7 linked regions of the Homo sapiens genome follow. The protein of the gene in region 5 interacts with the protein of the main gene of each other region in a biochemical or structural test. Each region holds a gene or a part of one and is shown on either strand. Other genes may lie near its edges.

The links.
Region 1: the proteins of SMAD3 (region 5) and XPO6 form a complex in vitro, tested with the Homo sapiens proteins (one study listed by BioGRID).
Region 2: the proteins of SMAD3 (region 5) and TRIM62 form a complex in vitro, tested with the Homo sapiens proteins (one study listed by BioGRID).
Region 3: the proteins of SMAD3 (region 5) and SKIL form a complex in vitro, tested with the Homo sapiens proteins (one study listed by BioGRID).
Region 4: the proteins of SMAD3 (region 5) and EIF4B form a complex in vitro, tested with the Homo sapiens proteins (one study listed by BioGRID).
Region 6: the proteins of SMAD3 (region 5) and NFIA form a complex in vitro, tested with the Homo sapiens proteins (one study listed by BioGRID).
Region 7: the proteins of SMAD3 (region 5) and FOXM1 form a complex in vitro, tested with the Homo sapiens proteins (one study listed by BioGRID).

What each region holds. Positions count from the first base shown.
Region 1 is NC_000016.10:28,103,692-28,107,809, reverse strand, and holds part of XPO6 (exportin-6), read left to right. Parts: intron 1-132; coding exon 133-288; intron 289-1,312; coding exon 1,313-1,427; intron 1,428-1,595; coding exon 1,596-1,767; intron 1,768-3,102; coding exon 3,103-3,264; intron 3,265-4,118. UniProt on the Homo sapiens protein: Mediates the nuclear export of actin and profilin-actin complexes in somatic cells.
Region 2 is NC_000001.11:33,168,294-33,172,411, forward strand, and holds part of TRIM62 (E3 ubiquitin-protein ligase TRIM62), read right to left. Parts: intron 1-4,118. UniProt on the Homo sapiens protein: E3 ubiquitin ligase that plays a role in antifungal immunity by mediating 'Lys-27'-linked ubiquitination of CARD9 downstream of C-type lectin receptors; leading to CARD9 activation, followed by activation of NF-kappa-B and MAP kinase p38 pathways.
Region 3 is NC_000003.12:170,363,796-170,367,913, forward strand, and holds part of SKIL (ski-like protein), read left to right. Parts: intron 1-4,118. UniProt on the Homo sapiens protein: May have regulatory role in cell division or differentiation in response to extracellular signals.
Region 4 is NC_000012.12:53,016,284-53,020,401, reverse strand, and holds part of EIF4B (eukaryotic translation initiation factor 4B), read right to left. Parts: intron 3,930-4,118; coding exon 3,792-3,929; intron 1,605-3,791; coding exon 1,396-1,604; intron 493-1,395; coding exon 376-492; intron 1-375. UniProt on the Homo sapiens protein: Required for the binding of mRNA to ribosomes. Functions in close association with EIF4-F and EIF4-A. Binds near the 5'-terminal cap of mRNA in presence of EIF-4F and ATP.
Region 5 is NC_000015.10:67,072,102-67,075,601, reverse strand, and holds part of SMAD3 (mothers against decapentaplegic homolog 3), read right to left. Parts: intron 1-3,500. UniProt on the Homo sapiens protein: Receptor-regulated SMAD (R-SMAD) that is an intracellular signal transducer and transcriptional modulator activated by TGF-beta (transforming growth factor) and activin type 1 receptor kinases.
Region 6 is NC_000001.11:61,088,638-61,092,755, reverse strand, and holds part of NFIA (nuclear factor 1 A-type), read right to left. Parts: coding exon 4,076-4,118; intron 1-4,075.
Region 7 is NC_000012.12:2,866,998-2,871,115, reverse strand, and holds part of FOXM1 (forkhead box protein M1), read left to right. Parts: intron 1-2,361; coding exon 2,362-2,553; coding exon of another isoform or gene 2,554-2,598; exon of another isoform or gene 2,599-2,902; intron 2,903-4,118. UniProt on the Homo sapiens protein: Transcription factor regulating the expression of cell cycle genes essential for DNA replication and mitosis. Plays a role in the control of cell proliferation. Also plays a role in DNA break repair, participating in the DNA damage checkpoint response.

The sequences.
Region 1 (4,118 bases), on a different chromosome or scaffold from region 5:
CTGTTCCTTTAGTGAGACTCGTGTGATCATCTTCTTGGTACCTTTGCAAGTTTCCTCCCTCTCCCTTGTGTCTCCTCTTACCATGCTTTCTCCCCAGACAGCTTATAACCTGCAACTCATCTTGATTTGCAGCCAAACTGATTATCCACCAGACACTCAGCGTCTTAGAAGATATTGTGGAGAATATCTCGGGGGAGTCCACCAAGTCTCGACAGATTTGCTACCAGTCGCTGCAGGAATCTGTTCAGGTCTCCCTGGCCCTCTTTCCAGCTTTTATCCATCAGTCAGGTAGGAGCTGGCCCAGAGGCCCCACTGGTGGGTGGTGCTAACAAGGGCCAGAATACCCACTTAGATCTGTAGAACACACTGAGTCGGTGCAGTACAGGCCTTGACTTGTTCCGTGCAACGAAACCCGGTACTGAGGGGAAAGGGCAGTGATGTTTATTTGTGGAGTCTAGGGCCAAGGCCCTTTGGAAAAGTGAGCAGAGCTCTCCATATGGGCCTTGGCACCTACAAGAGAAGGCAAGAGAGCTTTTTTGGCTTAGTTCTCCTTATTTTGTGGCAAGGTGCATTTGCCGAGATCGTTCCCCTCACCCTTGTCTGTCACTGTCAGTGATAGAGGGCCTCTCTAGCTCTGTGGATGTACTTGCCTAGCTCTCATGACAGCATTATAGTAGTCTTGTCAGTTTTACAAGAGAAATATCAGGCACTTCTCAGTCAGCAAATATTCATTGCCTCTTGCAAGCAGATTGCGTGCAGTTAGGGCTGAAACACACTACACAAGATGATTGTTGAGATCTGGAAGTGAAACTGCCCTATATGTAACCAGTATTTTCTGCAATTAATCCATTTAATGGACCAGGGCCATGCAACCTAAATACACCTTCATTATCCACTTTCAACCACTTAACCCCTGACCCAGCTGCAGGGATTATTAGTCATAGGGGGAAATGGCTTAAGCACTCAGGTGTTGACCCAGTTGGCATTCATCAGTGTGGGCACAAAGTGATCCCTCTCCAGTGAAACTCTGACCATCACTGGATGTCGGGCAATGAGGGAGGGTTCGAGATGACCTTCATTTCCTGTAGTGAGCCACCAGGTGGAGGTTCCCTATACCAGAACTATTTTCTCAGCATGTCCCTAATCGTTTTCCACTTTCCATCATTGGCCCTGATGGTGTTGGGGAAATGTTTCCAGCAGGAAGCTGTAGAGAAAGCTGATAGTGCAGATTTCAGGAGTAGGTTGATGAAGCCCAGGGTTCTGGTTCTCACTGTGTGCAAGCCTCTGACGATATCTCTGCCCCTTTCCTCAGATGTGACTGATGAGATGCTGAGCTTCTTCCTCACTCTGTTTCGAGGCCTTAGAGTACAGATGGGTGTGCCTTTCACTGAGCAAATCATACAGACTTTCCTCAACATGTTTACCAGGTAAGCACAGACCCACCATCTATAGTTTTCAGATTCAAGGGAGAAGTGGTGGGTCTGGCGACAAAGTGTGGCTTTTTGCTCCTGTTCTGCACTTGCCACAGCATGGGTTTTCATGCTGGCCCCCAGAGAAACATGTGGTTGCTCACTGTGTGGCTTTCTCCTCTGTAGAGAGCAGTTAGCCGAGAGCATCCTCCACGAGGGCAGCACAGGCTGCCGGGTGGTGGAGAAGTTTCTGAAGATCCTGCAGGTGGTGGTCCAGGAGCCAGGCCAGGTGTTCAAGCCCTTCCTCCCCAGCATCATCGCCCTGTGCATGGAGCAAGTGTATCCCATCATTGCCGAGGTAGGGGCTCAGACGGTCCCCTGTGCAGCACCCCCCATCTCCAGATTGGGAAGGGAATGAGATTTCACAGAAAATGTATTGTGTTTTAAAGTTCATTTGTTAGTTTAATATGCTTGTAAAGTAGTTTCTCCCAAGGAAGAAGGCCTTTAGTGGTGTGGTACAGTGTTTTTATATTGATTGAGTTCATTGGAGCTAGTCTAGTGTAAGCATGGCAGTTATTCCACAGGGTCAGTTGCTAAGATCAGTCTCCTGCGGCAAATTTTATACCTTTAAGAGACTCTGGTTTTCTATAGCAAACATTCTAACATATGTACTTTCCTATTAGAAACATTCATGGTCTCGAGGATACAAGGCAAGTTCTTGAAACCATTCAAACAAACCTTTCAGTGTTACAGGAAAGCCCTTTGTCCTTCTTAGAAAATAGGCAGGCACTCAGCATAATAAGACCCGGAATAAGTATAGATTTAATTTCAGTTTTTTTGGTAATAGTCGTATAAATAAGAGTTAATCTTTAACTGTCTGAACTGAGACTGGGACAGGTCTGGTTGCTGTGCATTACGAAATGCACTGGGCCTATGAGGCTTCTTCTGTGGATGCTTGTGGCCCCTGGTGTCTATTTAATTTTAATCAAGGCTGAACTGAATATATGTGGGCCTTCTAATTTTGAATTCTGCAGAGACATTTGGAATAAGGGATTGGGGGAGTTGGAGTCAATGAGAAAACACTGCTGAGCCTGACCCTTCTCCTCTAACTCCTCTCAGAATCCTGGCTACTGGGAAAGAGGAGACTGGCCCAGAGAGCCTGGCTCCCAAGTGTTCTTTAAACCCTCCCCTTCTGGGGAGCAGAATCGCTTTAAGGCGTTGGGTCTGTCTTTAGCCTCCGTGGTTGTGTAAGACCAACAGGTTAGTGGGACAGCATTTTTTATCCTGGGAAAAGGAACAAGCAAGAAGATCTGACAGGTCGAATAGAACAGGAAATCCATACTCCTAATTGTTCATCCACTTGGTAGCTTTTTTCTAGTGTAAAAGCTGAGTGCTCATCAGAAAAAGGGGCCCTTGGCACTGACCCGTGCATTCTCTCTCAAATGTGGGCCATGTCTCTCCTGAAGAACTCGCGGTGTGAACCGCCAACTCCAGGGGCTAGATGTCTTTTGCACAGGCAGTGACAGGACTCCAGGGGCTGGATGTCTTTTGCGCAGGTAGTGACAGGCATGTGGATGGAGTGTTGACACTCGGCTTGCTGTCACGAGGCGTCTCCTAGGCATCTTTGCTGCCCTGGGCCCAGGCCGGAGCAGCTCCGCAAGCTGCAGGTCTGAGCGTCTGTGTGTCTTTGCAGCGTCCCTCCCCTGATGTGAAGGCCGAGCTGTTTGAGCTCCTTTTCCGGACGCTCCATCACAACTGGAGGTACTTCTTCAAGTCCACCGTGCTGGCCAGTGTCCAGAGGGGGATCGCTGAGGAGCAGATGGAGAATGAGCCCCAGTTCAGTGCCATCATGCAGGTAACGTGGGGGCGGGGTTGCTGCCAGGTGACTTCCTCTAACCTGACCACTGCAGCGAGTCCTGTCTTCGAAGCCCCACAGTCTCGGGTCTGAAGCTCAGTTCTGCCTGTTAGTATTGATGAAGTTAATTAATTTCTTGGAGCCTCAGTTTCTTCATCTGCAAAGTGGAGCTAATGTTGCCTGGGTCACAGGTTTGTTGTGAGGTTAAATGAGATGACATACACAAAGTGCATGACACTTGGAGATGCTTGATAAACGTCAGTTCCGCTGACCTCATAGTGCTGTTTCCCCAAGTGTAAAGAGCCTGCCTATGCCAGAGTCACCGAGGGCCTTCTTAGCGGGGAGCTGCCTGAATATGAGTCTCCGCAGGAGGGCCCCAGACCTGCACTGTGATTCTGACTCTGACCATACTGGGAGAAACACTGCCCTGGGAGGGAGCATTCGCTTTCAGGGCAGATGCAGCTGTCCATTGGAGAGAGTGCACTGTCTGGGGGCTAAATACCCCTTGCTGTGGAAGACTGGGACGGCATCACCTCGCCCAGACAGCCAGCCTGCTCTGTGGCTGTGTCAGGCACGCTCCCAGGGTCTGCACTCAAGTGTCTGACGTTCTCATCTGAGTCTAGCTAGGGGAGTCTCTTTTGGTATTTTCAGTGCATGCTTTTCCTCATGGGGAAGCAAGAGGGATTTCCACCCTCCCTCCAGCTCCCTACTAGCACACAGCATGCACACAGGCATGCACGTGCGCATGCGCGCGCACACACACACATACTGACTCTTGTGTGGCAGTTCTTTTCAGGCACGTGCCCTTGCCCTGGCCTTCCCATCCCTGGCACCCACCGAGGCCTCAGGTCTGC
Region 2 (4,118 bases), on a different chromosome or scaffold from region 5:
AGGAAGAAGGAGCCCGAGTCCCTGATGACTGTGGGGCTGCCACACCATCGGTTTACTCAGTGACATGCTAGGAAGCTGGCTGTCTGAGAAAAACTTTTTTTTTTAAATCCCCAACAGTGCCAATTTCCATGGTGTAAATGTTCCCACTCAAGTGGATTTCAAGCCATCAGTGTGAAGTAGTAGTTGGACTTGGCATTGGGATGAGATGCACACAATCAGCTCTCAGGAGCCAGTGCAACCTGCCGCAGCACACCCACCTGGAGTCCTTTCCTAGAGACTTGTCTTACATGAGAGAGAAACGCACCCCATCTGACTGCAGCTACTTCAGCCAGGGCTCTGTTACTAACAGCTGAAAGTCATTCCTAACATTCGTGTGCAGCTTGAGCGGATACAGTCCTCGGAGCAGAGGAATCTTGTTTGCCTAAGAGAGTAGAAAGACCGCTCCTCAGGTGCCTCTGACAGCCTTGGGCTATCCAGCCTGGGACACAGTGTGGCTGAGAGGCAGATGTTGAGGAGATGGGCCAAGTGCTACAATTCTCCCCCTGGTGGCCCCCATGGGTCCACAGAAGACCCAGCCACCCAGGCAGCTCTTCAGGATTTCTGAGAAACTGCCTTGGAGTCTGCCTTCCTCACATTGCTCAGGGCACTTGAGAAACCTGGACATTTCCTCCCTGATTTTGCAGTCAGGGAATAAGGACAGCGGGCTTGCTCCTTCCTCCTGGATCCCGGGAGAATCAGAACACTCATTTGCCCATTCCACAAACATGTGTTGAGACCTTGGGCCCCACATGGTGCTGTGTCAAGGATGGGGAGAGATGAGGTGTGAGTCCTAAACGTGATGCCACGAGGTGTGCATGTGTTGGGGTGACAGTCAGGGACACAGACACTTACATCATGGGGAATGCTGCGATCGTGTTAGGAGATCCCAAACTTGCTCCTCTCCCCATATTCCCCATCTCAGTGAAGTGCACCCCTCCCCTAACTCCATCCCAGCCAGAAACCTCGGAGTGAGAGTCATCCTTGATTCCTACCGCCTCCAAACCAATCCAGTCACTAGGTTTGCTCTGGAATTTGTTCTCTCCTCTCTATGCGTGCTGCCTCTGGTTCGGTTTTTATCACTTCTTTTCTGGGCTGTGGCCCCAGGCTCCTCCCTGCCTCTAGCTCTCCTGCTGCTCCAAGTGCCCTGCACAGCAGCTGCAGTGATTGTTCTAAAGGGCAGATGTATAAATGCTTCCCCCTCTCACTCTCCCCATTGTGCCAGTCTGCAGATTTCCACATTGTCTGGGAAGAAAGGCACAAAGCCTTAGGGTGACATTCAAGGCTCTACTGCTGGCCCCAACCTTTTCTTCTCCAGTCCTAGCTCTTGGTCCAGACGTGTGCTGTTCAATACGACACACGTGGCTATTTAAATTGCAATTAATTAAAATGAAATAAAATGGAAAATTCAGCTCCTCGGTTGCACTGGCCACATTTCAAGTGCTTGCCAGCCACCTGGGCTGCTGTATCAGACAGTGCAGACACAGAACTGCCCGTTCTACCAGAGAGTTCTAGTGGACAGTACTGCTGCAGACACACTGAGCAGCTCGCAGGGCTCTCCAGGCCTTTACACATCTCTCAAGACCCAGATCAAATGTCACCTCCCCTGGGAGTACATGTCTCAAACTCTGCATGCACAGTGTCCCACACTTGTACCCTGATGGCACACACTGCATTTTAATTGCAAGGTTACCTGTCAATCTCCCCTACTAGGCCGGGCACAGTGGCTCACACCTGTAATCCCAACCCTTTGGGAGGCTGAGGCTGAGACCTTTGGATCACCTAAGGTCAGAAGTTCAAAACCAGCCTGGCCAACATGGCAAAACCCCGTCTCTACTAAAAATACAAAAATTAGCCAGGCATGGTGGTGGATGCCTGTAATTCCAGCTACTTGGGAGGCTGAGGAGCAAGAATCGCTTTAACCCAGGAGGTTGCAGTGAGCCAAGATCGTGCCACTGCACTCCAGCCTGGGTGACACAGCCCAGTCTCTTTAAAAAAAAAAAAAATCTCCCCTACTAGATTGTACATTCCAGCCTGGGTGACAGAGCGAGACCCCATCTTTAAAACAACAACAACAAAAATCTCCCCCACTAGATTATGGGCTCTTGAGGGCAAGGACTGTGGAAAGGGGAGATTTTCACAATCTCAGTACCTAGGACACGGCCACACACCCCTGGCCTCGCTGAGTCTTCAGGATGTCCCTGCCCAAGGATGAGGCTAGGCTGAGTCAGAGTTCACCTCGAAAGGGTGGGAGGGGAGAGAAGGCCCCCAGCAGGCAGAGTTCCTTGGATGGGCTAGGTGCAGAGCCCAAAGAAACAGCTAACTTAGGAAAACCAAACCCTAGAGTCCAGAAGGTAGGACTTAGAAGGCTGCCTGAGCTGTGTCACCCCTCCCGCTCCAACGTGTCTCCTTCCTTGGTTAGAAGACTGGCTCTACCACCCATTGGGCTGTGTGACCCTAGGATGTCACCTAACCTCTCTGTGCCCCAGTGCCTTGTCTGAAAAATGGGGATAATCATATCTCCTAGGGTTGGGAGGATAAAGTGAGACAATGGTAAGAAGTGTTCAGCCTCACAGGGCACAGAGCCTGGCACACCCTGGGTGCTCGGGAGACAGAGCGGTCACTGTGTCCCGTATGCGGCTCCCTAGTCGCTTCTTTGTGTCTTCATCCCTCACTGTGTCCAGGTGGCCCCTCCTTCCCTTCTCAGATGGCCAGAGCAGGAAGAGGCTGCAGGGACCATCTGGTCCAACCCCTTGGATTGCCAGGACAGGAAACACAGGCCCAAGGGAAGGGACTGACTGGCCCACGGCCACACAGCTTGACACAGGAGAACAAACTAGAAATTTTACTCCAGCAGAGAGGTCACACAGGAAACTGGAGCCTGATAAACTCTCAAGTGATACAGCTTAACCCTGAGGAAGGACACTGGTAACGGCAGAGACCCAGGACCAGAGGGGCTGGAGGCGGATGTGGTTTGGGTTTGAATTTCACAGGCATCTTGTCACCTAATTCTCACAACAATCCACAAGGTTAGTAGTGTCTTTATTGCGTCCATCTCACAGAGGGGGAAATTGAGGCTCAGTGAGGTTAGGCAGCTTGCCTAAGTTCACACAGCTAGTAAGAGGCAGAGGGGAGGCTCTCAGTGGCTCCGAAAATCCATGTTCAAAATCTCTTGGCCTCCCTACCTCCCATGCAAATCAATGCAGCAAAAATTTCTGAGTACCCAATGAGTGTCAGGCTTTGTGCTGGCCGCTCCAGGGGTGGGCCTATACATGGTCCTTGAAAAATTTGCAGTTAGTCGAGGAGGAAGAAACTTGAATAGGTAAAATACAAAGAAGAACAGGATAAACATGGAGGGCCTGCTAGGATCCAGAACAGCTGACAACACCTGGCTGTGCTCACAGCACCCTCCCTCCACCTTGGTTTCCAAATCTGTAAAGTAAGGTCTTATTTTTATTTTTTATTTTTTTGAGACAGAATCTCGCTCTGTAACCCAGTCTGGGGTGTAGTGGTGCGATCTTGGCTCACTACAACCTCTGCCTCCCAGGTTCAAGTGATACTCCTGCCTCAGCCTCCTGAGTAGCTGGGATTATAGGCGCCCGACACCACGCCTGGCTAATTTTTGTATTTTTAGTAGAGATGGGGTTTCACCATGTTGGTCAGGCTGGTCTTGAACTCCTGACCTCAAGTGATCTGCCTACCTTGGCCTCCCAAAGTGCTGTGATTACAGGCATCAGCCATGGCACCGGACCTCAAATCTATTAAGTAAGGCCTAACAGCACCTGCTCCATAGGCTTGCTCTGGGAATGAAATGACTTAATTCATGACCTGACATGACGTACAGGGTGAGCTCAATCAATCTTAGTTGTCATTATCATCATAGTAACTATATGTAAAGTTGGGACTCAGAACGGGGGGAGCTTCAAGGAAGGAGTTTGTTTCTGATGGAAGGACAAAGGAAGATGGATGGCCAGGGTTCCTTCAAGTCTCCAGGATGGGCCAGGGCATTGCAGGTGGGGAGAACAGGTTGGGTAGGGGCCCACCCTCACGTGTGCAGGAAGTCGGGGTGGTTGGGGATGGCT
Region 3 (4,118 bases), on a different chromosome or scaffold from region 5:
TTTAAATCAGGATTGACTTCAAGCCAGTGCTCAGTGTAGAACTTGCTTACAGTTGGACTTGTCCCGTGCTGAAGTTTGTGCTCAGAGATTATATTTCAAAATGTGGAATGCCCCTTTTGATATTTGTGATATCTTGCCCCCAAGCTAATTAGGTGCTGTACTTTTTTTTTTGTAGAGACAAGTCTTGCTCTGTCGCCGAGGCTGGAGTGCAGTGGCACGATCTCGGCTCACTGCAACCTCTGCCTCCTGGGTTCAAGCAATTCTCCTGCCTCAGTCTTCCGAGTAGCTGGGACTTCAGGCGCCCACCGCCATGCCCAGCTAATTTCTTTTGTATTTTAGTAGAGAGGGGGTTTCACCATGTTGCCCAGGCTGGCCTCGAACTCCTGAGCTCAGGCAATGCGCCTGTCTCTGCCTCCCAAAATGCTAGGATTACAGGCGTGAGCCACCATGCCCAGTGGTGGTCTACTCTTACATGTCTGTTGGAGGCCACATTTGCCAGATATTGTTGCTCCCGTCTTTTTTTTTTTTTTTTTTTTTTTTTTTTTGAGACAGAGTTTCGCTCTTATTGCCCAGGCTGGAGTACAATGGCGCGATCTCAGTTCACTGCAATCTCCACCTCCCAGATTCAAGTGATTCTCCTGTCTCAGCCTCCCAAGTAGCCGGGGTTACAGGTGCCCACCACCATGCCTAGCTTGTTTTTTGTATTTTTAGTAGAGATGGGATTTTACAGCCTAGCCGGCTGGTCTTAACTCCTGACCTGAGGTGATCCGACCTCCTCGTCCTCTCAATTGCTGGGATTACAGGCATGAGCCATGGCGCCTGGCCCGCCCCAGTCTAATTATTAGTCTGACATAAGTGTATTTTGGATAAACTACTTTTCCTAATATTCTTGCTCTGTGTTTATGTGAAAAACATCTGAGAACCATGATAAAGGTTTAAAAAAAAAAAGATGATGGATTAATTTACTTAACTGAAACAATGTGCTGAGGTTTGGTTAACACTGAAACCATCCTTCGTCTGGGATGTAATCCCTTTTTGTCCCAGAATTCACTGATTTGAATACATTTTCGATTTTAGGAAGGTGTGAGTTTCTTTCTGATCTTTTTGCTGTGTTATATTTTGCAGTATTTGAATTAGTGTTTGTGGTGTATTTTGATATTGCTTGTAATTTTATGTGAATTTGAGAAATTTAAAGGAATTTAAGAAAATTTCAAACACCCATACTTTAAGAAAGATTCTTTTCTTTGGTTCATATTTAATACGTACTTGAGTGGTTGTTTTATTATGCTTACCACTTCACGTTTTAAAAACGTACTCAGAACATTGTGAAGTACACTTATTTTTTAGGGTCTGTGAGGAAGGTGAATGACAATATTTCCACCTCTTAGATGAGTCACATGCTCCTGGTTGTATAACCAGAATCAGGAGTTGAATACAGGGCTTCTAACTCGAAGTTTAGTAATTTTTCACTATTTGCCCCTGAAGCACATGTTAGTAGCAGAAACTGAATTTTGAGAAACATTAACTTTTCTTATCAATTTACCTTAGTACAGGTTGAGCATCCCAAATCCAAAATCTGAAATGCTCTAAAGGCCAAAACTTTTTGAATGCTGACATGGCACTCACAGGAAATGCTCATTGGAGTATTTCAGATTTTGATTTTTGGATTTGGGATGCTCAACTGCCATATCGTGCACATATTCCAGAATCTGAAAAAATCAGAAATTCAAAATACTTTTGGTCCCAAGCATTTCTGATAAGGGATATTCAGCCTCTATGATGGTTCTCAAACTCTGTTTTAACCTGCATATAAATTTAAATACTAAGGTATTTAACTGAGAATGAGATAGTCCTTGACTGAGGAACAGTTTTTATTTTCTTCTGTGAGTCATTGAGTTGGTTGCCAAACAAGCCAAATTGACCCAGAGGGAGCTCATTTTAAAAAGTCAAACTAGGCTTTTTTTTTTTTTTTTTTTTTGAGATGGAGTTTCGCTCTTGCGCCCAGGCTGGAGTGCAATGGCGCGATCTTGGCTCACTGCAACCTCCGCCTCCTGGATTCAAGCGATTCTCCTGCCTCAGCCTCCCAAGTAGCTGCAATTACAGGCGTCTGCCACCATACCCAGCTAATTTTTTTATTTTTAGTCCAGACGGGGTTTCACCATGCTGGCCAGGCTGATCTTGAACTCCTGACCTCAGATGATCCACCTGCCTCGGCCTCCCAAAGTGCTGGGATTACAGGCATGAGCCATTGCGCCTGGCCTTTTTTTTTTTTTTTTTTAAGACTGTACTAAATATATTAACGTGTTATGTAAAGGACCTGATGTTTGGTGTGAATACTGACATGATTTGACATGCGTATATAGTTTATGTAATCAAAGTATTGCTTTTGGATTAAAAAAAGTCCTGAAACTCAGTAAGTTGTTCGAAATGAAACAACTTAATTATTTTACAATTATAAAATATGTAATATATTAATACATTTTAATGTTAATAAGTTGTAGTATCTTGTAAATTATAAATAATTTGAAATGAGACAACTTAATTAAATATAGCTAATAACTCTTTCTTACTCAAGTCGCCATAAGAAATATACTTGATTTTAGGCCAGGCGCGGTGGCTCATGCCTGTAATCCCAGCACTTTGGGAGGCTGAGTTGGGTGGATCACCTGAGGTCAGGGGTTCGGGACCAGCCTGGCCAATATGGTGAAACGCCATCTCTACTGAAAATACAAAAGTTAGCAGGGGATGGTGACACACGCCTGTAATCCCAGCTACTTGGGAGGCTGAGGCAGGCTTGAACCCAGGAGGTGGAGGTTTCAGTGAGCCGAGTTCACACTGCCCTTCATCCTGGGTGACAGAGTGAAACTCTGTCTCAAAACACACACACACACACACACACAGACACACACACACACACACATACTTGATTTTAGATCTGCCTATGTTGTTCTACAGAATGTTGTCAAGTTACTTACCTGATACGAGCTTTTTGTGTTTTTTATTGGAATAATCATTATTTTACTTTAAACTGTATAAATACATGCAAACATCACATTCCTGATTCTTTTTCACATCTTCAGTGGATATTCAGCAAAATCAGAAGTAGATCAAATATATGTAAACAAAAATAGAAAATTAAAATAAATTTGATCTAATTCTAATTTTGTTGAATATTACGTTTGTATGAAAAAAAGATCAACAGGCAAATTAATCATTTGTAAATAAAATTTGAAGAGTAATGTTTACTTAAGATTATTTTCAAACATATTGGAAGTGGTCATTTGTTGTAGGTGATTCTTCACTTTTTTTGTTTGTTTGTTTGTTTTTTTTGAGACGAGAGTCTCGCTCTGTTGACCAGGCTGGAGTGCAGTGGCGCGATGTCAGCTCACTGCAAACTCCACCTCCCAGGTTCACGCCATTCTCCTGCCTCAGCCCCCTGAGTAGCTGGGACTACAGGTACCCATCACCACGCCTGGCTAATTTTTTCTATTTTTTTAGTAGAGACGGGGTTTCACCGTGTTAGCCAGGATGGTCTCGATCTCCTGACGTCGTCATCCTCCCAAAGTGCTAGGATTACAGGCGTGAGCCACTGCGCCTGGCCGATTCTTCCCTATTGTAGCATGTGGCTGACAGTCTCCACTTTACTAAGTTAAGAACTATATATACCCTTTTTTTTTTTTTTTAAATTGAGATGGAGTTTCGCCCTTGTTGCCCAGGCTGGAGTGCAATGGCGCAATCTTGGCTCACTGCAACTTCCGCCTCCCAGGTTCAAGCAATTCTCCTGCCTCAGTGTCCCTAGTAGCTGGGATTACAGGTGCCTGCCACCACACCCAGCTAATTTTTTGTATTTTTAGTAGAGATGGGGGTTTCACTATGTTGGCCAGGCTGGTCTCGAACTCCTGATCTCAGGCAATCCACCAGCCTCAGTCTCCCAAAGTGCTGGGATTACAGGCGTGAGCCACCGTGCCTGGCTAAAATTTAAACTTTTAACATTTAGACTGGACTACTCTTAGGTAAGTAAAATATTTTAGTTTTTAATCTACTTAGGGGGGAAAAATCTCTATAGATTACTTATGATACAAACAGATGACCTAAAGATAGCAACTTAAAAAATTTTT
Region 4 (4,118 bases), on a different chromosome or scaffold from region 5:
AATACTAAACAAACTTGATTTTTCTATTTGCCTTTATCAGGCCAGATTACTTTGAAAAAGCAATGCCATAAGAGTTGAGGCAACACTGTGGGTAAATCAGTGTAAGACTTAATTAGAGACCTGGTGTGTGGTGGGTTTCTTCCACAACTTTCCACCTAAGTACCTATCTAAATTATTGGGGCCTACTGAATTTGCTGAAGTGTGACTTGCTAGATGTTCGATGTTAAGTGATACACTGTTAAATAATGCAGGCCTTTATTTGTAGATATGGGAATCTTTGAAGTGAGCCTCTCAACCTAAAAAATACCAGTTTGATCAATAAACATGAGATTTGTGAACTTACACCCCTCATATCCCCACTCTTATTTTCTTTACCTCTTCATTGAGACTCAGGGCACTGAGCAGGGAATCCAGGTCCTCAAATTCAGCATAACCAAAACCTTTCAACCTCTCTGGATTGCTGGGTTCACGTGGTAAACGCACTGCACTGATCTGAAGGAATAAGAATCAACAACAAAGTTTCCCAGCATTCTTCTTCATTTGTCATTTTTTGAGAGGACTACAAAAGCATTACTGTATGTGCATGAATTTTTCTGAATACACAAGAACATGGTTGTCTCAGGAGGAAAACTGATGCAGAGGGATAGTAGAAACTTTACTAAATGCCCTATTATACCTTCTGAATTTTGAACTGTATGAATTTAACTCTAAAAAAAAAAAAAAAAAGATTAATTCAGGCCAGGTGCAGTGGCTCATGCCTGTAGTCCCAGCACTTTGGGAGGCCGAAGCAGGTGGATCCTCTGAGGTCAGGAGTTCAAGACCAGCCTGACCAACATAGTGCAACCCTATCTCTACTAAATACAAAAAATTAGCTGGGCATGTAATCCACTGTACTCCAGCCTGGATGACAGAATGAGACTCTGTCTCAAAAAAAAAAAAAAAAAAAAAAAAGAAAAAAAAAAAATATATATATATATAATTTTGATTTTATTTTTTTTCTTTGAGATGGTGTTTCACTCTTGTTGCCCAGGCTGGAGTGCAATGGCGCAATCTCGGCTCACCACAACCTCCGTCTTCCAGGTTCAAGCAATTCTCCTACCTCAGCCTCCCAAGTAGCTGGGATTACAGACGTGTACCACCACGCCCAGCTAATTTTTGTATTCTTAGTAGAGACAGGGTCTCACCACGTTAGCCAGGCTGGACTCGAATTCCTGACCTCAAATGATCCACCCGCCTCAGACTCCCAGAGTGCTGGGATTACAGGCGTGAGCCACCATTCCCGGCCTTAAATTATATTTCTAGTTGTTTTTTCAACAGCAACTGCCCATTCCACAATTAGTCTTTTTTAGACATTATCCTCAATATCTAGTTAATTATTACAACTTTTACACTTACATTTAATCCTCGAAAGAATTCCTTAATTGACTCTTCTGTAACATCATAGGGTAGGTTTCCTAGAAAAGCAGTGTAGGGTGGCGATTTGGGAAGACGGCTCCGGTCGATATTGGGTTCCCGAGCAGCCCGTGGAGCAGTGGGAAGGATGGAACGGTCAATTGGAGGCGCCCTATACACATCGTCATCGTTACTGTGCCAAGTGGTCGAAACTAGGATAGAGGAATGAATGTAAGAAATTAGAAGAAACTTCTCTCACTACTGTCATAGAACAAGAGGACCCATGTTAATTGCCAAATATTAAACATGCTATACAAGAAAACCAGACCAAAAAAAGTGGGGGTTCAGTAATAAGGGCACTTTACGAAGAGAAGCTTCTGAGATTAATTATGACACCTTAATCTTTATGTAAGCAAAGAAATATTATTCCATAAATACAACTCTTTATGGAATATTACTGTGTGCCAGCTACTTTATATTCATTATATCCCATCTTATCTTTTTAACAGTCCTGTGAGGTTGTCCCCCATTCTACAGAAAAGCAAACTCAGATTTCAGACAGTAATTTGCCCAAGGTCACAGACGGTAAAGCTAGGATTCAAACCTGGGTCCCTCTTACTCCAGGTATATTTAACCACTACTGACAACTCTTGTATTCCTAGTGGTGAGTTTGAAGTTGAGTATTTTTCTGCATGGTCTATCCTCCCTTAAAAACAACAACAGGCCTGGCTCGGTGGCTCACACCTATAATCCCAACACTTCGGGAGGCCAAGGTGGGTGATCACCTGAGGTCAGGTTTGAGACCAGCCTGACCATTATGGTGAAACCCTGTCTCTACTAAAAATACAAAAATTAGCCAGGTGTGGTGGCATGTGCCAGTAATCCCATCTACTTGGGAGGCTGAGACAGGACAATCTATTGAACCGGGAGGCGGCAGTTGCAGTGGGCCAAGATATTGTGCCACTGCACTACAACCTGGGCGACAGAGTGAGACTCCATCTGAAAACAAACAAACAAAAATATCACAACAAAAATCTTTTCCTACAGCACTGTCCATGAATTTGTACTTCAGATACCAACACCTATGGGAAGTACGACCTATATAAAATTTCCTGTTTTGGCCGGGTGCAGTGGCTCATGCCTGTAATCCCAGCACTTTGGGAGGCTGAGGCAGGTGGGTCATGAGGTCAGGAGTTCAAGACCAGCCTGGCCAAAATGGTAAAACCCTGATTCTACTAAAAATACAAAATTTGCTGGGCGCGGTGGCGGGCACCTGTAATCCCAACTACTCAGGCGGCTGAGGCAGGAGAATCGCTTGAACCCCGGGAGCAGATGTTGCAGTGAGCAGAGAGTGCGCCACTTGCACCCCAGCCTGGGCAATAGAGACTCTGTCTCAAAAAAAATTTCCTGTTTTTAGGAATTATGAAAACAGGTCATAGGAAAAAATATTCTTTCAGCATGCAATAAACGATTTTCAGGAAAAAAACAATGGTAATGAGATTTATGTCATACCCGGTCATTATAAAACATAGCTCCTTATTATTCCTGGCGACTCCCTGAAGGCACAGAACTTGTCCAATTGACTCTTCTTTATTTTCCCACCATAATTACTGTTCTCACTCCTTTTCCTCAGACCATTTTCGTTTACCCAAGGACACTCTGATTTTATACTAATGACACCTGGAACTAATTATTCCTTGGCTCTGAGTAAACATAGCTTACAGATTACACTGAAACATCACTTTTTTTTTTTTTTTGAGATGGAGTCTCGCTCTGTCTCCCACGCTGGAGTGCAGTGGCATGATCTCAGCTCACTGCACCCTCCGCCTCCCAGGTTCAAGCAATTCTCCTGCCCCAGCCTCCCGAGTAGCTGAAATTACAGGCACATGCCACCACGCCCAGCTAATTTTTGTATTTTTAGTAGAGATGGGTTTTCACCATGTTGGCCAGGCTGGTCTTGAACTTCTCATCTCATGTGATCTGCCCACCTCGGCCTCCCAAAGTGCTGGGATTACAGGTGTAAGCCATCGCGAGCAGCCTGAAACATCACTTTATGAGGACCCCATAGAATTTTAGACCTAAAAGGAATTTTAAAAGATGATCTAGTTCTTACTTTTAAAATGAAGAAAATGAGGCCCAAAAGAATAGTAACTTAAGAAGTCTGTTAATGCAAGAACAAGAACTAGCAAAGCTCTCTTAAATGACCACTTCAGTCTTCACTGCAAAGTCTGACAGCCCAAACCTCAGATTAAACCTTAGATTCTATAAAATATGTAAGATTTCAGGTGCTAAAAAATGAGTAAGTTCTTTTCAGATTACAAACGATGTGAATTATTATGTAATAGGTTTTGTCTAGAAAATAATAAACATTCCAAACACGATGACAAAAGAAAAGTTACCATCTCCTTCCAGGTCATCCGTTTCATCAGCCCAGCTGACTGGTTTGGAAACATAGGTGCTTCCTCCACCAGTACCCCCATCCTCAGCCAGAAAGTCTGTTAGGGAGATAGTCTTCCCCTTCTTATTCTTCTTTTTTGCTGTTTTAAAAGGCAAGAGAAAGATTATTCACCAATACTCAGGTATTTACAGAGTTGTACAATGCAATATTGTAAAACATTATTTAGAAAGAAATAACATGGACGCTCCTCAAATGGTTAAATTATGGCATTTCCATGAAGGGGTACTATGCAGACATAAATAAGAAATTTAAAAGTTGCAGAATACCT
Region 5 (3,500 bases):
TCATCCTCATTTTACAGATGCAGAAACTGGGGCTCAATAAGTTGAAGCAAAGTACCCAAGGTCACCACATAGCTAATAACTGTCAGACTCAAACCCAAACCCATCAGACTTGAGAGGCTTTGCTCTTTCTGCCCAACTGTGCTCTTCCTGTCCTCCCCCTCTCCTGCTCCCCAGGTAATATGTGAAGAACCTGTCTGGGTAGAGACAAACAGCCACACACAAAATGTAAAGGGTTGGCACAACAAGCAGTAATTCACTCTGCCTTCCCATGGGCTGGGAGAAATTAGACCCACCTTGAGTCTGACTTCAATAAGGGTAAGAAAAAGTTTACAACCAGGAAGATTTGAAGCAAAAGGAAAAACCCAATTTCCATCACCAGTGCCTGCTTTCAGCCACTTGTAACTACTCAAAAAGTCCTTTCTGGATTCATTACTCCACATTTGGGCTTAGCCCAGAGGTGATTTTTTAAGGAAAAAATGCCTTTTGGCATTTTTGAGCAGTGACAGCGTAAAAACAGACCTTTAAAAAACACACACCCAAAAAGCATTACTATTTTCAAATGTCCAGTTGAAAAGAAAAAAAAAATGGTGACACCTCAGAGTTACAACTTGGCTTGGCAGTTTGTGATGCAACACTTAGCAGCAAAAGGGACCAGATTCATAACTCTGTAGGTTTCAAAGGCAAAGCCATACACAGTGTTTCTTAATACTGGAGTCCTACCCCATCTCTACTAAAAATACAAAAATTAGCTGGGCATGGTGGCGGGCGCCTGTAGTCCCAGCTACATGGGAGGCTGAGGCAGGAGAACTGCTTGAACCTGGGAGGCGGAGGTTGCAGTGAGCTGAGATCACGCCACTGCACTCCAGCCTGGGCGACACAGCAAGACTCCGTCTCAAAAAACAAAAAAAGAGAGAGACAGAGATAAAGAAACAAACAAACAATACAATACAATACTGGAGTCCTAAACTACCGGCAAAGCACTCAAGAGAAAAACTTGCCAGATGTAAGCTGGGAGAGCCATGTGATACTGAAAAAGAACTATTTAGGAGGAAACTCACTTTTCATTTCCTAGTTGGGGTTTAAACTTGCAACATCCACGCTGCCTAACAAAAGGCTCATGCTTACGCAATCAAGTGCAGCCTTTCTTTATATAGATGCTTGGAAATAAATAAAGGAAGCTTCCTGGGTAAACTTTGACATATGAGCAAACATTTTCCACAGGTATCCTCTATAATGCCTACCTCTTACATTTAACCATTTTTAGGCATCTGTGGTCATTAGTTTAAGTAAACTTCCTGTTCTTAGAATAGTCAAAAATAGCAACAAAAGAAGAAAAACTGTTCACTGCATCTCAAGAGGCACAGCCTCCACATCTTCATCCTAGCATTATTTTCATATTCCTTTGTAGTTAAATTTCACTGATTTAGACTCACAGAGTAAGGAAGAGGCAAGGAAGAGGGAGGGAAATCACCAAAATTAAAGGCTGAATTACAATTTTATTATTTTTACTTATGTAAATTAATTGACACCAGGCTGATAGAGTCTTGGAACATCAATAATTAAGAAAGATCTGTCATTCACTGATCAACTAGATGCGTGCAACTGGGAGCTTTTAAAATGTTTGTATGTGGCCGGGCGCGGTGGCTCAGGCCTGGAATCCCAGCACTTTGGGAGGCCGAGGCGGGCAGATCACTTGAGGCCAGGAGTTGGAGACCAGCCTGGCCAACATGGCGAAACTGGTCTCTGATAAAAATACAAAATTAGCCGGGTGTGGTGGCACATGCCTGTAATCCCAGCTACTCAGAAGGCTGAGGCAGGACAATCACTTGAACCTGGGAAGCGGAGGTTGCAGTGAGGCAAGACCGCGCCATTGCACTTTAGCCTGGGCAACAAGAGCGAAACTCCATCTCAAAAAATAAAATAAAATAAAATAAAATGCTTGTATGAATACCAATTCCAAGTTAGAAAGGCCCTCCAATAGAGTTTATCTAGCCTATTTTCCAGTTGAGAACATTCGAGGCCCAAAGAAGGTGACTTGTCCCAGGTCACACAGCTAATCAGAAACAGAGCCACGTCTAGAACCTACCAAGGTCTGCTGACTCCTACCTCCAAAATAATCCCCAAACTCTTGTTTATTAATTTTTCTTTGACAGCATTTATGGGGCAAAAAGGCCTGCTAAACAAACTTTTGCCTAGTCCAGAATTAGCCAAACTTCTTAATTAATAGGCTTCTACTGTGTTTTCATTTTAAACTGAGTCTCTGCCAAAACATTCTACAGCAGTTGCCACTGTGGCAGGCTGCTGTTTATAGGAAGGGTCTTAGATAACCAACAGTGGATAGTATGCTATAGATTTGTTTATTTCTCAAACTGTTAAGTCGAAACAAAGGATTATGTTATACAGAGAGAAAGAGAAAGAGAGAGAGAGATCCTTGTCAAGTCAATAAACTGCAGAGCTTGGGGGATGTGGTTTGGCACCAAAAAAACAGTATTTACAAATTAGCTAAAGAGTGAACACATACAGCATTCTTACAACTCCAAAGAACCTGTGTTTCACAGCCAGTGGACTAGAAGCTACAGAAGGCACCAGGGACAGTATCTGCCTTATTCACTATTTTGTCCGCATTATCTGGCACAGAAATTAGCACCTGGTACGGCATTAAAGGAAGGCATAAAAATGAACTGGACAAGTTCTCTTGGAATTGTCTCGGTTCTAAAGCTTAGAACACAGTAAAATTAGAAACCAAACTTCTGTAGGGTGGGCTTAGGATGGCAACTTCCCACTGTTTCCAGGAACCATTGTGCTTGAAGATGGGAAGACTGAAGGCTCCATGGCTCAGGGACTTGTCAGAGGCCAACAGAAGGTCATACCCCTCCTTAGGGAGGAGTTAGTCCCATCCAACACTGCACCAGCCATTCACGTCTGCACATGGCTGGTGAACTTCCACCCCCTGCACATTCAGCAGGCTGCCATCATGAGCAGCCTTCTTGGGCAGTTCTCTTGCCAGCCAACCAACACTATGAGATGGGGATTTGGGGGAGGGAATGGAGTCTTTAAGTTTTGCTTTTGTTTTAATCAGTCAATATGGCAAAGGAGAAAAGGGCAAAAGTCAATTAGGACTATTGATGAGACTTGCTGATTAAGAAAACTGCATTCCAATCTTAGAGAACTTAATTGCAATTACAGGAAGCTGAAGGAGAGGTGAATAAAGGTGGGAGAATAAGGTTAACAGGAATGAAAGCTGATTCCAATTTGAAGCAAGCCCTGCTTGGTCTTATTTATTTCATTAAGGAGCTCACGCAGAATAATGGCTGTACTGTGCATCAAATGGCATTAAAATCTCCTAATAAATTAACAAGTAAAAATTAATGGTCGCTCAGTTCATTAAATCGTGTTAATTTTATTCCATTATAATAATACAGCAATCACATGTTTACATTATTAAACCAATATTTATTTTTTAACTCATTTAGTTGGATTCCTGATGTGATAAGCTTGAA
Region 6 (4,118 bases), on a different chromosome or scaffold from region 5:
AAGGAATGGCAATCACGAAGCCAAAATAAAACTAAAATGCACCTGAATGGGAGTAGCTCTCTTTTGGCTGAAATGGAATAATATGAGGTACAGCAGAACAAAACTAGCAAGAATCTAAATAATTTGAAATGAGCATTCATGTCAGCATAATTAAGTGAACAATATGGTACAGGTAATGTGGTAATCAGTAATACTGTTGAGTAGGTTTATAGGACAGGTATCAGGCTTCCGAGACACTGAAACAGCTCCTTCAGTGATTGAAAGGATCTTTGCTATTCCTGATGCAAGCAAAATTAAGTAAAGGTAATAATGGTAGCAGCATGGAAGCAATCAGTAACTACTGCACTAAAAGATTACCGTGCAAAAGTGTTCTCTTTCTACCTTAAAACTAACAAGTACTCATACTGCTGCCATTAGGACAACAGCAACTTGCTTTGTCACTGGCTAATTAACAATTAAAGCAATTACCTGACAAATTGTGGTCACTTATTAATCTTTCAAACTGAATTTTAAGACTGCTAAAAATACTTCTAATGTTAGAAAATTCCTCATCTGCAAAAAGTGAAGATGGCTCACTGTGATTTAGCTTTTAGGCCTAATGTCACTTGAAAATTAGCAAAGGCCTTAGTTGAATTAAACATAAATTAATTTGTTTAATTTTAGATTTTAAATGTCCCCACACAGCTGCCTCCAAGCTTTTATTCTACCCCATGGCAGGTAATAATATCAAATATAAATTGTGAAACTGTCATTCTATGGCCTAAAAATAGCAACCTGCCTCTATCCAAGAAATGAGTCCTTAAAAAGTATAACCTTTCACAAAATCTAACTAATTTGACTGAGAATCTTTCTAGAATCTGATTACATTACCAGAAGTTTATACAGAAGTGGTTAAAAAAAAAAAAACAACAACTCTCCAGAAACTTCTCGGTTGAGTGCCTACTAATGAACAAAGGTTAACTTTATCTAAAAGGTCAAATGCCTGGTGGCTAAGGTTATGACCTTAACAACTTAAATTGTGACCTTGCCACGTGCCGGGTATATTGTAGATTCTGATACAGATCATCTGGTAAAGACTGGTCATAAATTAGCTTTACTGTTACACACCCACAAAGAAAACCATTTGCCACAATACCATAGTATCCCCAAGTTGTCATATGATACATGGGAAGGACAACTCAAATTGAGACCAAATTAAGGGCATAAAATGGTTTTGTTCTTTTAACAAGATGAAATTCTCAGGCTTATGAAATCACTCCAATTTCATTACACTTGTTACTGCTTATCAGCCACAAAATTCACAGTTCTAATGCCACTGGATTTAGAGGGAAAAAACTGGAATGTAGTTTATGTATTATATTTTAGCATGTCAATAAGTCTTAGAATAAATCACCTCCGCTTTAAAAAAAAAAAGATTGATTCTGCATTTGCTTCTAGTATTCTCACGTATGTTCTGAGATTTCAACTTCCTACCAAAGAAAGGTGGACACATAAAGCAAGAATTATTACACACAAATTTCAGAAGGAAAAGAAGATCTAATTTCTATGACCATCTAGGGGGAAAAAAAGGCATTCTGGAAAGGAAAAAAATATAACAATTTAAAAGAAAGAGCGAGAAAAAACGCATTATAGGTGAAAAGGCCACAATGGTTTTGGCATGTATCTTGAAGCACGTTTCAGAGTCTCTGCCTCCTGCCAATACTGGCAAGTTCTCAAAACTTTTAAGGAGGTAAAAACATTGTTTAGTGTTTACAAATCTTCAGTATTATAACAGATGCTTGTCAAATCAGTTGTATGTAAGTTGACCGATCTACCTCATATTTGTATTGGCAGCTTCCCTTCCACAAATAACAGGTCTCTGAATCTCTTAAATCAAATTTGAAATATTTTCAGACAAAAGACCCTTAATATTTTCTTTTACAGTCTTCCTGTTGCGCGCACAGAGAAGCAGCCATTACTGCGGTCCCGTGAAAACCAATGGCCAAACATTTGGCTGGCATTCAGGCATAACAAGGGATTCTGGGATACATCAGGAAAACCAAACCGAAGAGTAGTCTGATCTATGCTGCTGTCAATAAATCTTTCATAAGCAATAAGGATGCTAACTCTCCTAAGTAACCTTCTAAATGTCATTTTACCAACATAACCCCTTCAGGCATTGCAACAACCAACAACTGTGTTAGTTCAAGGATTGGGAGCAATAGCACAGTAACAAACCAACGACGAAAAAGAAGGCACGTAATGAGAACAGCGAAAAGATTGCATTTCTTTAAATAACAGAGAAATGTTTAAGACGAAAACTTAGAATGGACACTGCTTACACCGACAAAAACTTCACAGGTATTTCATTTTGATGTTATCTTATATGGAAGCACACATCATGATCTGCATCACCTGTTGGCACTTTCAAGTTTCGATGTTGGTCATCTATTCGGGATAATTTATAGGTTATATTTTTCTAAATATCTAAAAGGTAAAAACAAGATTTTAAAGAGTGCTTCTTGAAAGCACCTGTAACACCTATACTTTTTTTGCGTTTTGCTGTGCTTAACATATGCAGACACATTTTTTAAAAATTTTAACTTTACTTTTTCAGTAAACAAAACAAATGAACAACAACAGGGTTAAGAGTGGGTTAAAAAAGGGCTACTTATTCCTGCTTAGAGGTCACTTGAGAGGTGCTGACTTTTCATTCTTGCTACCCAGAATTGGCTAAAGCAAAAGGCAATTCTTATAATTAAGTATACATTTTTGAAAACCCAAATATTTGAAACACTTACAGCTCACATCCTCTAAAATACTCATCTATCCCCTGCCAACAGAATGCAAATGATGATGTGACATGCTTGCAAAGCTAATTTCTCCAGTTTCTTATGTAAGGGCAGATGGATAACAAAAGTTCTCTTTCTAAAACATATATTGAGAAAAATAATAGAGAACAGGCTATCAGCTGGCTTCTTTAAAAACTCACTAACATTTTTAGAATTAAAAATGTTTTGAAGAAAAGTGCAGTGTTTTTACAGGTAACATCTCTCCTTTGTAAAAAAAAAAAAAAAAAAAGAAAAAAAAACGTTAAATATTTGAACCCCAAAACAACCTACTGGTAGGATTCCACAACCCTCTTTCTTCCATCTGGCTCAAGTAACTGCCATGAAGGTAATCTAGCAAGACCGATATGTACATATATAAAGTCAACAAGTTACACAAGACCTGAGCGTTCACATAGCACAATGAGCCTTTTGTCTAAAACAAGACGAAAGGAACAAAGTAAAAATGCATTATTTTATCCAGTCCTCAATAGTTTTATCCTGCATGCTATTCTAAACACTGAAACATGCACAGGTAAGACATGCCTTGAAAAAACAGAAAAAAAATTTAAGATTTTACAATCAAAGCAACTCACTACATCAATTATCAATAGCAATTTTTCAATGTGTTCATGCAATATACAGGTTGGTTATTTTTAATATTAACCTCTCCATCAATTACTGAAAGAGCTGGTTTGTTTCCCTTAGCTATCTGAGACAACACTAAGAATTCCTAAATACAAAGCTACTAAGTCTGCGTATTAATGTGATTATTTTTCCTTCCTAAATGATCAGCAATTTGATAGTAATCTACCTCCAACTTCTTAATTGGCAAGGGGTTCAAGAGGCCTCAGTAGGTTAAAAACACTCCCAGCAGAAAACCAACTAAAAATATTGCCTCAATACCAAAATAAATGCTTTTAAACTAGATCATTTGTCAGTTAAAATATACTCTTTATTAAAAGGGTTTTCACGAGGCTTCTCTCATCCCCTCATCAAAAAATGTGATTTAAACATATCACATATCTGATTACCAACGCCTCTGAAAACACTACTTACCAAAAGAGCTGAACTTAGTGAGAATTCGCTCAAAGCTATGCTTTTTCACCTGAATGAAGGTGGCACCTCTCTCAATCTTTGAAACCACACTGGCTTCATGTACGTGGCCTGCAACTTGGGGAGCTCAGGAAGAATCCGGCATAACGCGGAGGCCATCAGGAAAGAAACACACACAAGAAAGTGGGAGGAATTCTCACCATCGCACTTACCTGCTGCATGCACAAAGTATGCCAAATATAAATCGAGTTCCTT
Region 7 (4,118 bases), on a different chromosome or scaffold from region 5:
CCCAGGTAGTGAGTATAGTACCTGCTAGGTAGTTTTTCTGTCTCCCCCTCCTCCCACTCTCCACCCTCAAGAAGGCCCTGGTGTCTAGTGTTCCCTTCTTCATATCCATGTGTGCTCAATGTTTAGCTCCTGCTTTTTTTTTTTTTTTTTTTTTTTTTGAGACGTAGTCTTTCTCTGTCTCCTAGGCTGGAGTGCAGTGCTGCGATTTCAGCTCACTGCTACCTCCACCTCCCAGGTCAAGTGATTCTCCTGCCTCAGACTTCTGAGTAGCTGGGATTACAGGTGCCCGCTGCCACGCCCGGCTAATTTTTGTATTTTTAGTAGAGATGGGGTTTCACTATGTTGGCCAGGCTGGTCTTGAACTCCTGACCTCGTGATCCACCTGCCTTGGCCTTCCAAAGTGCTGGGATTACAGGCGTGAGCCACTGCGCCCGGCCTCTTTTTTTTTCTTTTTGAGACGGATTCTCTCTTTGTTGCCAGGCTGGAGTGCAGTGGCACAATCTCTGCTCACTGAAACCTCTGCATCCCAGGTTCAAGTGATTCTCCTGCCTCAGCCTCCCGAGTAGCTGGGACTATAGGCGCCCGCCACCACGCCCGGCTAATTTTTTTATTTTTAGTAGAGATGGGGTTTCACCATGGTGGCCAGGATGGTCTCAATCTCTTGACCTCGTCATCCACCCGCCTCAGCCTCCCAAAGTGTTGGGATTACAGGCGTGAGCCACCGTACCCAGCCTAGTTCCTACTTATAAGTGAGAACATGCAATATTTGGTTTTCTGTTCCTGCATTAAATCGCTTAGGATCATAGCCTCCAGCTCAACAATCTTTAAAAGTGAAAATTTGGCCAGGCGCGATAACTCATGCTTGTAATCACAGCACTTTGGGAGGCCAAGGTGAGTGGATCACCTGACGTCGGGAGTTCCAGACCAGCCTGACCCCGCCTCTACTAGCAATACAAAATTAGCTGGGTGCAGTAGTACATGCCTATAATCCCAGCTACTCGGGAGGCTGAGGCAGGAGAATCACTTGAACCCAGGAGGCAGAGCTTGCGGTGAGCCAAGATCGTGCCATTACACTCCAACCTGGGCAACAAAAGTGAAACTCTGTCTCAAAAAAAAAAAAAAAGTGAAAATTTACATGCGTGTATATGTAAGTAAATATTAATTGTGCTATATACATAAAATTTGTGTACTTTAGAAAGTAATATCTCCAATTTTAAAAATGTGAATGAGACCGGGCATAGCGGCTGACAATTGTAATCCCAGCACTTTGGGAGGCCAAGGTGGGCAGATTGCTTGAGCCCGTAAGTTCTAGGCCAGCCTGGGCAACATAGCAAAATCCTGGTCTCTACTACTAAAAATACGAAAAAAAAAAAAAAAATCGCCAGGCGCAATGGCTCATGCCTGTAATCCCATCACTCTGGGAGGCCAAGGTGGGTGGATCACCTGAGGTCAGGAGTTCGAGACTAGCCTGGCCAATATGGTAAACCCCATCTCTACTAAAAATACAAAAAAAGTAGCTGGGCGTGGTGGCAGGCACCTGTAATCTCAGCTACTTGGGAGGCTGCAGCAGGAGAATCGCTTGAACCCAGGAGGCAGAGGTTGCAGTGAGCCGAGATCGTACCATTGTACTCCAGCCTGGGCAACAAGAGTGAAACTCCATCTCAAAAAAAAAAAAAAAATTAGCTGGGCGTGGTGGTGTATGCCTGTAGTCCCAGCTACTTGGAGGCTGAGACAGGAGGATCACCTGAGCCTGGGAAGGTCAAGGCTGCAGTGAGCTGTGATCCAGCCACTGCACGCTATCCTGGGTGACACAGTGAGACCCTGTCTCAAAAAAAGAAAAAGAAATGTGATTGATCAGCTCTTTGCCTAAAACTTAGCTAACTGTGTGCTTTGCAGACATTGTCTGACTCATAGTCTTGAGAATGTTTCTCTCATACAAACATTGAAATGAGATGCGTTTATTCACAGCACATCAGGAACAGAAATGGGACTAAGACCTAGGTTTCTAGACCCAAAAGTCTGAAAAACGGGCGTGGTTTTAGTGTAACATCAATGCTTTGAGAATCAAAGTACATACTCAAACTTTCCTAAGAAATTTCAACTGGAAGGGACTGGATTTTCTCCAAATTCAACAAAATGATGGATGACAAAACCAGTTTCTTATTGGCTAGGGTCTAGGCTAGATCATCTCCAAGATTCTTCCCAACTCTAAAATTTTATTCTATGAGATAGTGGTCTCAGATGAGTTTGTTTCTAGACCGTCCTATGGGATAAAGGTTTCTCTAGATGTTCTTCAAGGGCTTGGGTTGGGGGTGCTTCTCATGAACTCTTTCATGTCATTCCCTGTGTCATAACCCTCAGGTTGAGGAGCCTTCGAGACCATCAGCGTCCTGGCAGAACTCTGTGTCTGAGCGGCCACCCTACTCTTACATGGCCATGATACAATTCGCCATCAACAGCACTGAGAGGAAGCGCATGACTTTGAAAGACATCTATACGTGGATTGAGGACCACTTTCCCTACTTTAAGCACATTGCCAAGCCAGGCTGGAAGGTAATGTGTCCCACAGCAACCAAAATCAAGGTCAGCCCAGCCTGACAGTCTCTCCAGTGCTGTACTGCAACTTGTATCTGGGACAGCAGTTAAGTGCAAAGGACACTAGAATGATAAACAAATGTATCTTTTAGATTGTGACTCAATCTTATTGAATCCAGGCAAAATCATTAAGAAGAGCTCCTTAACTACTTCATGTGTTACTACCTAAAGTCCATGGAGGGTCTTCAATGTAGCACTCAAGCCCACTTTTCTGCTACACTCAACAGCCGTCCTAGATGCCAGCAGCTAGAGTGGCTAAGTAGTTTTATGAAAATGTCTTGATTAAAAAAAAAAATGCTGTCTGTGAGCCTCATGACCCAAGATGTCATCTCCTGTAGCGTCACATAGCATTTCTAGTGGGCAGGGGTTTTCCTTTCACTTCATTCATGGAAAGACCGAGATGCCTGTGAGTCAACATAGCTCACGCAGTTGGTCGGTGTCAGAGCCACAAATGAGGTCTTCTGACGGGTGCTCAATTCCAAGTCAAGTGTGCTTTGTTTTCCTCATGGTAGAACTCTTTCTTTTTTTTTTTTTTTTTTTTGAGACAGAGTCTCGCTCTGTCACCCAGGCTGGAGTGCAATGGCAGATCTCAGGTCACTGCAACCTCCTCCGCCTCCAAGGTTCAAGCGATTCTCCTGCCTCAGCCTCCCGAGTAGCTGGGACTACAGGCATGCGCCACCACGCCTGGCTAATTTTTTTGTATTTTTAGTAGAGACAGTGTTTCACCATGTTGGTCAGGCTGGTCTCGAACTCCTAACCTCAAATGATCCACCCGTCTCGACCTCCCAAAGTGCTGGGATTACAGGCATGAGCCACCACACCTGGCCCCTCATGGTAGAACTATGTTTTTTTTTTTTTTGAGATGGAGTCTCGCTCTGTCACCCAGGCTGGAGTGCAGTGGCGCGATCTCGGCTCACTGCAAGCTCCGCCTCCTGGGTTCACGCCATTCTCCTGCCTCAGCTTCCCGAGTAGCTGGGACTACAGGCGCCCGCCACTACGCCTGGCTAATTCATGGTAGAACTTTTAATTTTACTCCCTTCCATCAGCTTACTTTCCTAGTTTTTTGTTTGTTTGTTTTTTGAGACAGGGTCTCACCCTGTTGCCTGGGCTGGAGTGCAGCCTCAGCCCCCTGGGCTCAAGCTCTTCCCTCCTCAACATCCCAAGTAGCTGGGATAACAGGTGCACCACCACAGTCCGCTAATTTTTTTTTTGTAGAGACAGTTGCCCAGGCTGGTTACTATGTTGCCCAGGCTGGTCTGAACTCCTAGTCTCAAGCACTCCTCCTGCCTTAGCCTCTCAGTGCACTGTGATTACAGGCGTGAGCCACCACACCCAGCCTTAATTTCCTAGTTTCTTGTTTGTTTGTTTGAGACGGGGCCTCACTCTGTCACCCAGGCTGGAGTGCAGTGACATGATCTTGGCTAACTTCAACCTCTGCCTCCCAGGTTCAAGTGATTCCCCTGCCTCAGCCTCCCGAGTAGCTGGGACTAAAGGCATGCGCCACCATGCCTGGCTAATTTTTA